2 separate regions of the Homo sapiens genome follow, and region 1 is linked to region 2. The links come from fine-mapping of genetic effects on gene expression. A gene starts in region 2. The other region holds a variant in brackets. All regions are shown on one strand. Distances are between the middles of the regions.

The links. PIP is the estimated chance that this variant, and not a neighbour inherited with it, causes the effect. A credible set is the group of variants that fine-mapping cannot tell apart.
Region 1: its variant is the best candidate, but not a certain one, in a credible set for the expression of PTGER3 in prefrontal cortex (GTEx, PIP 0.51).

Annotation. Positions count from the first base shown.
Region 1 is chr1:70,539,563-70,545,098 of GRCh38, reverse strand. No RefSeq gene overlaps it. Among named protein-coding and RNA genes, the nearest start is that of CTH, 130 kb to the right of the region's middle. The variant T/G (reference allele first, on the strand shown) is at 2,189.
Region 2 is chr1:71,045,283-71,050,282 of GRCh38, reverse strand. It overlaps PTGER3 (prostaglandin E receptor 3), which reads left to right and starts at 2,467. Exons shown (of 4, transcript NM_198719.2): 1 at 2,467-3,602. The coding sequence starts at 2,706. It overlaps ZRANB2-AS1 (ZRANB2 antisense RNA 1), which reads right to left and starts at 3,777. Exons shown (of 3, transcript NR_038420.1): 1 at 2,694-3,777; 2 at 1,295-1,469. RefSeq lists an enhancer at 2,470-3,053.

The DNA.
Region 1 (5,536 bases), 510 kb after region 2:
AAGCCACTTCACCCAAAGGCACACATTTTGATTGCATTTTAAAGATTGCTGAATATTCTGTATATGTAAAGACAAATATGCTTTCTTCCATTTTTTTTGAAGGACATACACCTTTGGGTCTATATTCCATTTTCCTTCTCTTGAAACATAATATAGAGAAAGACTTCTCTACAATGAGAAACTGACAATGTACGCACAATATGAATGATAACTAGCATTTGACCTAGAATTGGAAAGTCAATTGCGAGTGATATGTCTACAGCAAACGAAAAAGGACTCACACTATCTAAAGGGGCACCTACTAAGTAGAGCTAGGCCATTATTATAATAGCATGCAAAAATTTAGACCCGGTGCTGCCAGATTATGATTAGGATCCAGATTTTTATATAAAATTTCCTGGGTTTGAACTGTTGGCTCAAAAAAAAAAAAAACTTACAAACAATATACAAAGTAAATATACCAGGTCTGTAATTCATTATAGATTTGGATAATGGACCATCAGATGGATAATTTTGCTCTGGGAAAAAACCCAGAAAGTTTCCATAATATCAAGTCATTGAAAGCACTACAAGAGCATAAGATGTGTGGACATGGGGCGGGGAGAAAATAAAACTGGTAAACCAGATTTGGGGGAGAAGAAAAATAGAGATTATATATGATATGCCCTGATGTCATATAAAGGTGTATTAGGTGTTTTAATTATATGGTGCAAGGATTCTTTGTATAGACTTCAGACTCATTTTAAATACTCTTCAAGTAATGGTAGCTATCAATACACATCAGTAAAAATAGGGCCATCTAGAGTAGTTGGCACCAATAAATACTAATGAGGGTCAATAAGTGTTTTGCAGGTCAAAATGCCAAGTCTTAACTTTTGATCTGCAAAATCTCCAAGGCTATGAATTAATTAGGAGCAAAAACATTGTGGGAGCAGAAGGAAGGGTGAACTATAGTTAGACTAATATAATTTTAAACCTTATAGCAGGATGGCTAAGAAGATAGGCTTTGAGGCCAGGCACAAAGGCTCATGCCTGTAATCCCAACAATTTGGGAGGCCAAAGTGGGAGGGTTGCTTGAGGCCAAGAGTCTGAGACCAGTGTGAACAACACAGCTAGATCCCTGTCTCTACAAAAAAATTGAAATATACGTATAGCCAGGCATGTGGAGGGTGCCTGTAGTCCCAGTTACTGGGGAAGCTTAGGTGGGAGGATCACTTGAGCCCAGGAACTCAGGGCTGCAATGAGCCGATATCTCAACACTATGCTCCTAGGCAACAGAACGAGGCCCTATTTCTAAAAAGAAGTAAAAGAAGAAAATAGGTTTTGTAATTAGGCAGATCTGATCTAAAAGCCAATACCAGCCACTGAATAGTTCTGTGAAATTGAATATGTTGTTTTATTTCTTTAAGCATCAATTTTTTCATCTGCAAAATCTCACTGATGATAGTCCCTATTTCATGAGTTGCTGTAATGTTTAAATAAATGCACAGATTAAACAGCACCATACATGTAAAGCACTGAGCAAAGTCGCTGGTACAAAATAAGATCTTCAACACCTTATATATAGAAAGACTTCTAAGAAGTCACGTGTACCTTTTGTATATATATTTTTATATACAATATACAGGAAAGCTACCATGTGCAAGGAAATGCCACCAGTTTTATTTTACTCACACCTAAAAATAATATAGTGTTATAATAATGTATGAGCTCAGCTCAAATTATTTTTTCTTGGTGAAATATTTGTAGTATATTCATTCTGTAGAACTTAGTTTTAACAGCAGGGTATTGATTTAATGTAAGTATTCCCTAGTTACACCAGAATTTTTTTCACTTTAGAAGAAAAATATGTGCCCCAAAGAATGGCATAGGTTTACTGTGTTTTAACCACAATCTCATTTTTGCATTGATTTAATAAACAAATTGTGTTTTATTCCAGTGTAGGATGAGAACCTGAATGGGAGCATTTGACAAATGTTGAGTCAAATGCCCCTTCAGGCCTGGAAATCAATCACTCATGTTTCTCTCACTGAGCAAACACAGACAAGGCAGAACATGCCTATAATCACAGGTCTCCCCTTCAGAGTCTCCCGAGCATAGAAGAGTACATTAGTCGTTGTCACTTTTTTGACATCTCAGAAATTGCTTCCAGTAGAAGACACTATTCCCTCTAAAACTCTTTTCTATG[T/G]TTCTTGCAGCATCATATAGGCAGGGACTATCTCTGTGCTGTTCACAACTATATCCCATCATTGATGAGTGCTCACCAAGCACTTGTGTGAATTAACCAAAGTCCAATCTTTCCATGTTAATTCTCCTGGTAGACCAGAGAAAAGTCAAAATGTCCAAAATAGCACTTAGAGTTAGCATCATCGATTTGAACAATTAATTACTTGTCAGTTTTGAGTAAAATATGCAAAAGCATTTCTTACGGTTCTTTTTCCCTCACAACAATGAGCACATATTACATATTCAACAAATACTGACTAAACCAAACTTAATTTCTAATCCTTTCCATTTTCTTTTGGTAATAATTAGCAAAGCCAATTTTATTCAAATATAATCTAAAGGGTACATAGCTTGTTCTTGAAAATAAAGTGGCAACGTAATGAATTCATGAGACTGGAAATCTTCAGGTCATGACAGCAGAGCTAATTCTAATAAAAGAGGCAGAGTACAAGTTTTGAGTTGAGAAAGAATAAAACATTCTTCTAGATTAATACTCATTTTCCTTAACTGTGAAGCAGATTGAAAAGAAAAGATAATGAGCCCATTTAGTTTAATGTCCAAAGTGATTGCATTACATAAGGGTACCAGAATATTCTATGACTGCAAAACTCATTCTGTCACCTATTTTACAGCCTTCAATGGCAACCTATTTTGAGCCATTTGAACAAGGGAATTAAGGTTCTATAGAGGAGAAAATGACAGCAATTCCAGTTATATAAATGTAACTAACTCAATAAAATACAATCTTTCCCCTAGAATTCATCAGCAGATCAGCACCTAGATGAAATAAATCCACAGAAAGACAGTTCCCATTAGTAACCTTGCCATTATAAAATAGGTGGCAGTATTCTTCATAATGTCAAAGGCTTGGCTATTTAAAAAAAAAAAAGCCAATGTCGCTTCAAAACAATAAGGTACAACTAAACAAAACCTGAACCCTGAAATTTAAGAAAAATGTTATTTATTAGGTACATTCCACCAATTCTTGTATGTATGTCTGAAACATACCATATGTGGTTCAACTCACACTAAGTAGGAATTTGGTTTCTGGTGTATACTTTCTACTTTATTTCTCTATGAGCAATGTATTATTTTGAATTAAATATACATATGTACATTTATATTTAATTTAGCCTTCATTATTTTGTTTTGACTTTGTAGTAGGACAAGCATGCTCAAGAAAATGCAGTAGGAAATTTATTTACTACATAAGCCATGTGAATCTCAATTGTGACAATATTTTCTTATTTCTCAGAATGCAAGCTAATAGTGGAAAGTAAAGAAAGGAATACATCTATATGATTAGGCAACATGATAACAGAGACTAAACATATGTGGAAAAATTCTGGAACCCATCTCTTCGAATGCGCCTCTCTACATTCTTTCCACCTATGACAGAGAATTCATAAGACAATATTTTATGTATACAAAATTTTATAAATACAGTCTAAATCTTAGTAAAGAACTAGCTTTTGCTTTTGTTGATTCTCTCTGGTTCCTAGTTCATTCATTTATCTTATCTTTTTTCTTTCCTCTTGTCAATTTTCTGTAGTTTTTTATGTTAATGCTTAACCCAATTATTTTCAAATTAAGCTGCAAATGAACCTCTACATAACTTTTTTTGGCAACTTTGATGAGTAAAACTTTCATCATCATTCAACTCTAAATAGGTTGCTATTTCCATTGTCATTTATTCTTTAACTCTCATGTAGCAGTACTTTTTTAGTTTACAATACAGAGAGTCTTTCTAAATGGCTTTCTATTCTTGATTTCGAATTTAATGTACTGTGTTCAGAGAGCACACTCTGACCTTCATAGGGACTTCTTTTGAGACCTAACACCTGGACAATGTTTATAACTTTTTCATGTATCCTTAAAAAAGAATGCATATTTTCTATTTTGAGGTCCAGGACAAGCCATTAGTTTTGTTCAAGATCATTACACTATTACTTGGTCTACTAACTTCTGATAAAGGTTTATTAAAAATATCCTATTATGATTATGAATTTGTCAAATTTTCTTATAATTATGTGGAATAAGATAATTATAAGATAAATTTGACAAATTCATAATCACAATGGTTTGGTTTTATAGATAAACATATACTTATATTTATATTTAATAAATATATATTATATAAATACATATATTTATATCAATATATACTTACATTTAAATTTATATAAATATATAAATTTTTTTTTGAGACTTAGTCTTGCTCTGTTGTCCAGGCTGGAGTGCAGTGGCATGAGCTCGGCTCACTACAACCTCTGCCTACTGGGTTCAAGCGATTCTCCTGCCTCAGCCTCCCGAGTAGCTGGAATTAAAGGCACCCGCCATCACGCCGAGCAAATTTTTGTATTTTTAGTAAAGATGAGATTTCACCATGTTGGCCAGGCTGGTCTCGAACTCCTGACCTCAAGTGATTCACCTACCTCGGCCTCCCAAAATGCTGAGATTACAGGCATGAGCCACTGCCCAATCGGTTTTATTTATGTTGAGACAATATTGGGTACATAGAAATTTATAATTTTTATATCAAAAATTATTATTATTATGTAGTGGCCTTTATGTCTACTAATGTCTTTTGCCATATTTTCTACTTTGTCTTGTTTTACTTTGCCAGTTCTCATTTGGTTATAATTTTCTTGATATATATTTTAGTTATTCTTTTATTTGTTATCTTTCTTTGGGGTTTAATTTCATATTTGGCTCTTGGATATATCATATAGCTGAATTTTGTAATATTTGCCCAACCGAGTTATCTTTTAATAGTGATAATCTATACACATTTATTGGATATTCATGTGTAACAAAATGATCATCTTTCCACCATTTTTGTTTTTGTTTTCATTTTCCTCCTTGGCTGAATTCTGTAGGATTGATAGTTTTAGATAATAATAATTAACATTGATTGAGCATTGAGTAGGGCTAGATATTTTATCGGCTTTACACATATGATTTTATTTAATCTTCACAACAACTCTGTAAAGGAAGAATCTATTAATGTCTCCACTGTATATTTAAGGAATCTGAGGCACTAAGAGCCTAAGTAACTTGATCCAGTTTTATGACCAGTAAGAGGTAGAGATAGAATCGAAATGGGCAGCAAAATTCTAGAAATTATGCTCTTAACCAACATATTGTACTCTTCTTAAAGTACCTTCTACAATGATTTTAAGTGACTTTTTGTTTTCAAAAAAATTTATACTTACATCCATAAGTGTTTCCAAAACTTTAGAATCTGACATCAACAATGGAAAATAAGCAAAAACTTTCTGAAAACCTGCTATATTATTATTTTTCTATT
Region 2 (5,000 bases):
TTCCCTAAGCAAAGCATCCATTGGCCCTATGGAAATTCTCTTTAAAACAGCATAAAGCATGTTATTAGCCTTTTGGTCACTAGAGGGTGGTGTTGTTTCAGACCAACACAATTCACACTATATCCGTAGTAACTGACCAGAAAGTACCAACCAGAATCCAACTGCCAGCTTCACACTGTTACTCCACAAAACCTCACAGTCACTTGTTTACAAGGTGAATAGCTAAAGGCAGACAATATAGGATGAAGCAAAGTGCTGAAAGAAGAGAAATACCCAAATTATCTGAAATGCAACACATTTTGTTCATTGGCATAGAGGTTAGTGAGAGGCTAACAATTCTTTACTAATACATGCCCCGACGCTTACCATGCTTATCAAGTCCAATTGGCTACAGCAAGCACTTCAGTGGGAGAAGTAAAAGTTTCAAAGAAGTCAAATATTTGTGAATAAAAATGAGAATAGTTTTTGATGTAACTGGAAAAAGATAAGCCTTGCTTCCTTTGCTGTGTGAATGGTGATATGGTCTTAAATTTTAAATATTGAATTACACTAGAATTTTACTAACTATAGATGGTATAAACTTGATAGCCACTTTCATCCAAATGCTTTGGATAAAGCTTTGTCTAAGAATAACCTCAAATATTATTTTATTTTCAAATGATATTAGGCTAGAAAAATACTATCCCAAATACAGGTTTGAGATTAATTCAAAATAATAAGACAAAAGTTTACGGAAGATTTTAGAATCAAACCATTTCACCCTTCCTAGCTGTTGTTCCCATTGTAAACGTGACATTTTAGTCAGTAAAACGCAAAAGTGCAAAACATTTTTAAATGACAGCAAAACACAAAATGAAATTCATGTTGTGATTAATGCATCTTATTAAAATGGAGTTTAAGTTGCATTCTTGCTTTTCCTTCTTTAAAAAACATATAATGTTATAGTGATATTTTTTCAAACTCTCATACAGAATCAAGACAACAGCACATAAAGTATGCAGAGGGACATATCCCATTCTTACCTCTTAACAGTAATTTAAAAGTTAAGAACACCCATACAGAACATCAGCTAAGCTAGGAAAGGCAAAACTGATTGGGCTTGTTCTGAAAGTTGATCTGTGTCAATCAAAATAATGGTCTTTAGAGTGCTATATGATTAAGTCTAATTTCTTAAATATGAGGAAAAATGAACTTTGCAATTATTTTTAAAAATCTTTTCATCTCTTAGACAGTGTAAAAAGGCAAAAAGCAAAAAACACAAGACTTTCCCAAGATTAGGGGAAGATGATCTCACCGTTAATATTCATCTGCTGAGAGCAGTTATGGGACCCATGTCAGGAATACATGCTTCAAATAAGATGGGACTTGAGAATTGCTGAGAGACTTCAGGAACATTCTTTAACTTCATGGGGCCTCAGTTACCCCACCTTTAAGGGAAATAATAATAGCAATAGTACCTTGGAGGATTTCTGTGATAAAATGAGAAAATGCTTGTGAGAAGTACATAAAATATTGGCTTACTGAAAGATGTTACGAGGCAAGCAAGTATGCCTATTTTCATTCAATGTTTATTATTTCAAAGGCAAAGTTTCCATATAGATTAAGGCCTTCATAACATCTGAATACCTTTTCTAGTTCTTATTGTATGAAGATAAGAAGGATGGTTGGAGGCTTTGTAAGGAATACCTTTCTCTTCTGCTCCCCTCTCACTCCCATAGGCTGGGAGCAGTTGATTTCACTACCTCAGATATGCAAATTGATGCCACCTTCCTGTAGCCACTTTTGCCATAGCTGACCTTTTTGTTGGGTGGTGGGGAGGGGAGCGGGCAGGATTAGGCGAGGGGTAGTAGTTGGGATTTCTTGGTCTTGGAATTCAACCATCCGATGTATTTGTTTCCCTGTGTCTATTCCCTTAAGTCTACAGGCACTGTCTAGTAATTTTATAGTTTTCAGCGGCACCCCAGGGGACAGGACACCTTGGCCTTTTTATAATCACTCTAGAGTCACAAAGCAGAAAGGAAAAAAGTTAACGATCAGCTATGCAAAGGCTTGTGTGGATTGCTTAAGGACAGGCGATTTTCACTTTACCAGAGTTACTAAAGGACTTCAGGAGAAGGATCCCGTCCCTGTAGGAGCGTTTGTGGTTGAAGAAGCAGGAGGACGAGCGCTCAGGTGCGCCTCGGCAGTTTGCCTGGGGTCCGCAAGTCCAGTGCTACTTATTAGCTGCTTGCCGTCCACCGACACTTTAGCGGAGAACTGGAGGAGACCCCAGTGGGCTCCCGGTCCGGCCAGGAGCAGGGCGTTTCAGAGGAGACCGTCTGGGGCTTCCCAACCCAGGCGATCAGGATAGGCAACAGCCAAGAGAGGCGCTCAGTTGCTTTGCACCCTCCTCCCACCTCGGTTCTGTCCACACCCACGGGCGCCCCGCCCCCTCGGCCTTATAAAGGGGACTCGGCACCTCCGCGCGCCTCGCCACCAGAGGTTTCCCAGAGAGGAAGGCGTGGCTCCCTCCCGGGCCAGTGAGCCCTGGCGCCGCCGCGGCCGCGGTCCCAGCAGCGGAGTAGGGCGGCGGCTGCGCCCCGCACCATGGGGGGCAGCCCAGCCCCAGCCGCGGTAAACGCCGACCTCCGCCGCCGCCCGCGCCGCGTCTGCCCCCTCCCGCTGCGGCTCTCTGGACGCCATCCCCTCCTCACCTCGAAGCCAACATGAAGGAGACCCGGGGCTACGGAGGGGATGCCCCCTTCTGCACCCGCCTCAACCACTCCTACACAGGCATGTGGGCGCCCGAGCGTTCCGCCGAGGCGCGGGGCAACCTCACGCGCCCTCCAGGGTCTGGCGAGGATTGCGGATCGGTGTCCGTGGCCTTCCCGATCACCATGCTGCTCACTGGTTTCGTGGGCAACGCACTGGCCATGCTGCTCGTGTCGCGCAGCTACCGGCGCCGGGAGAGCAAGCGCAAGAAGTCCTTCCTGCTGTGCATCGGCTGGCTGGCGCTCACCGACCTGGTCGGGCAGCTTCTCACCACCCCGGTCGTCATCGTCGTGTACCTGTCCAAGCAGCGTTGGGAGCACATCGACCCGTCGGGGCGGCTCTGCACCTTTTTCGGGCTGACCATGACTGTTTTCGGGCTCTCCTCGTTGTTCATCGCCAGCGCCATGGCCGTCGAGCGGGCGCTGGCCATCAGGGCGCCGCACTGGTATGCGAGCCACATGAAGACGCGTGCCACCCGCGCTGTGCTGCTCGGCGTGTGGCTGGCCGTGCTCGCCTTCGCCCTGCTGCCGGTGCTGGGCGTGGGCCAGTACACCGTCCAGTGGCCCGGGACGTGGTGCTTCATCAGCACCGGGCGAGGGGGCAACGGGACTAGCTCTTCGCATAACTGGGGCAACCTTTTCTTCGCCTCTGCCTTTGCCTTCCTGGGGCTCTTGGCGCTGACAGTCACCTTTTCCTGCAACCTGGCCACCATTAAGGCCCTGGTGTCCCGCTGCCGGGCCAAGGCCACGGCATCTCAGTCCAGTGCCCAGTGGGGCCGCATCACGACCGAGACGGCCATTCAGCTTATGGGGATCATGTGCGTGCTGTCGGTCTGCTGGTCTCCGCTCCTGGTAGGTAGTTCCAGGGTTGGGGGAAGTCAGGATGCGTGTGCGAGTAAGCGGGAACCTAAGACTTTGCTAAGTGGCAGCACCCGCAGGGGTGTGTTTGCAACCGCAGAGCGCTGAAGTGTCCTTTCCTCCTGCCCGCGCGGTCTTGGTTACAGCTTCAGAGCTGAGCTCCTCACTTACTAGCTGAGCGCCTTCCAAGAGCCAGGATTCGCATTAGGCACTGTTTATGAGCACATAGAGATCACAGGGCTGCTCACATTCTAGTCGGGTAGGAGACAGGATGTGTCATTGAAATGACATATATGCAGAGCTAGAAGTTTGTCCTGAGTGCATTAAAAGCAGAATTGCTATGATAACTGTAGCCTGATATTGTGGGGTTTTTTTTTTTTTTTTTTTTTGAGACGGAGTCTCGCTCTGTCACCCAGGCTGGAGTACAGTGGCGCAGCCTCGGCTCACTGCAAGCTCCGCCTCCCGGGTTCACGCCATTCTCCTGCCTCAGCCTCTCCGAGTAGCTGGGACTACAGGCGCCCGCCACCACGCCCGGCTAATTTTTTTTTTTTATTTTTAGTAGAGACGGGGTTTCACCGTGGTCTCGATCTCCTGACCTCGTGATCCACCCGCCTCGGCCTCCCAAAGTGCTGGGATTACAAGCGTGAGCCACCGCGCCCGGCCGGGTTTTTTTTTTTTAATTTCAAATTCCTCTTTCACGTTAATAAGATTTTCAGTCTGCAACCCCATACAGTCACAGCCCTCCTGCAGCTTCTGAAAGACTGCGCGACCTATGGGTGCCTTCAAGGTTCATTCTTGATGAGGCAGGAGAATGAAAGATACGAGTTGCCTCCTCAGCCTTTCGCCATGGTGCTTGACCCTCTAGGAAGTGCCCGAACGACAGTCAGTGGGATCCGGAAGCTCAGCAGCTTCTTCAGGCCAGCATTTACTTACCCTTGTAGCACTCAAGCAGGGTTCGCTAATCCTGAGATAGGAGGTAGAGGTTTCTCCATGTCCTAGCTCCTCACACCAGAGCAATGCAGAGGAGCAAGGGATGTTTGCAGAGGCTCTTTGCCTAACACCTGCCCTTACGTGATATTTTTGAGGTTTTTTTGTCTGTGTTACTTTTAGCTAGAAATGTCCGTGTGTAAGTGCTGTTTACTAATTCCTGAAGAATGGATGCTTACTTAGGCCCTGGGGTGTCTGGGTTAATAGATGTTGCAGAAAGAGCGATATGGTCACTGTTACAAAGGTATAACCAACTATATGTATTATACAGTTGTGGAAAACCTTTGAAACACGTGAACGCAGTTTTTTTTCTTTCCTAATTATGGTAAAATATATTACATACAATTCAGTATTTTAACCATTATTATGTGTACAGTTCAGTGGCATTAGGCATTAAGTACGTTG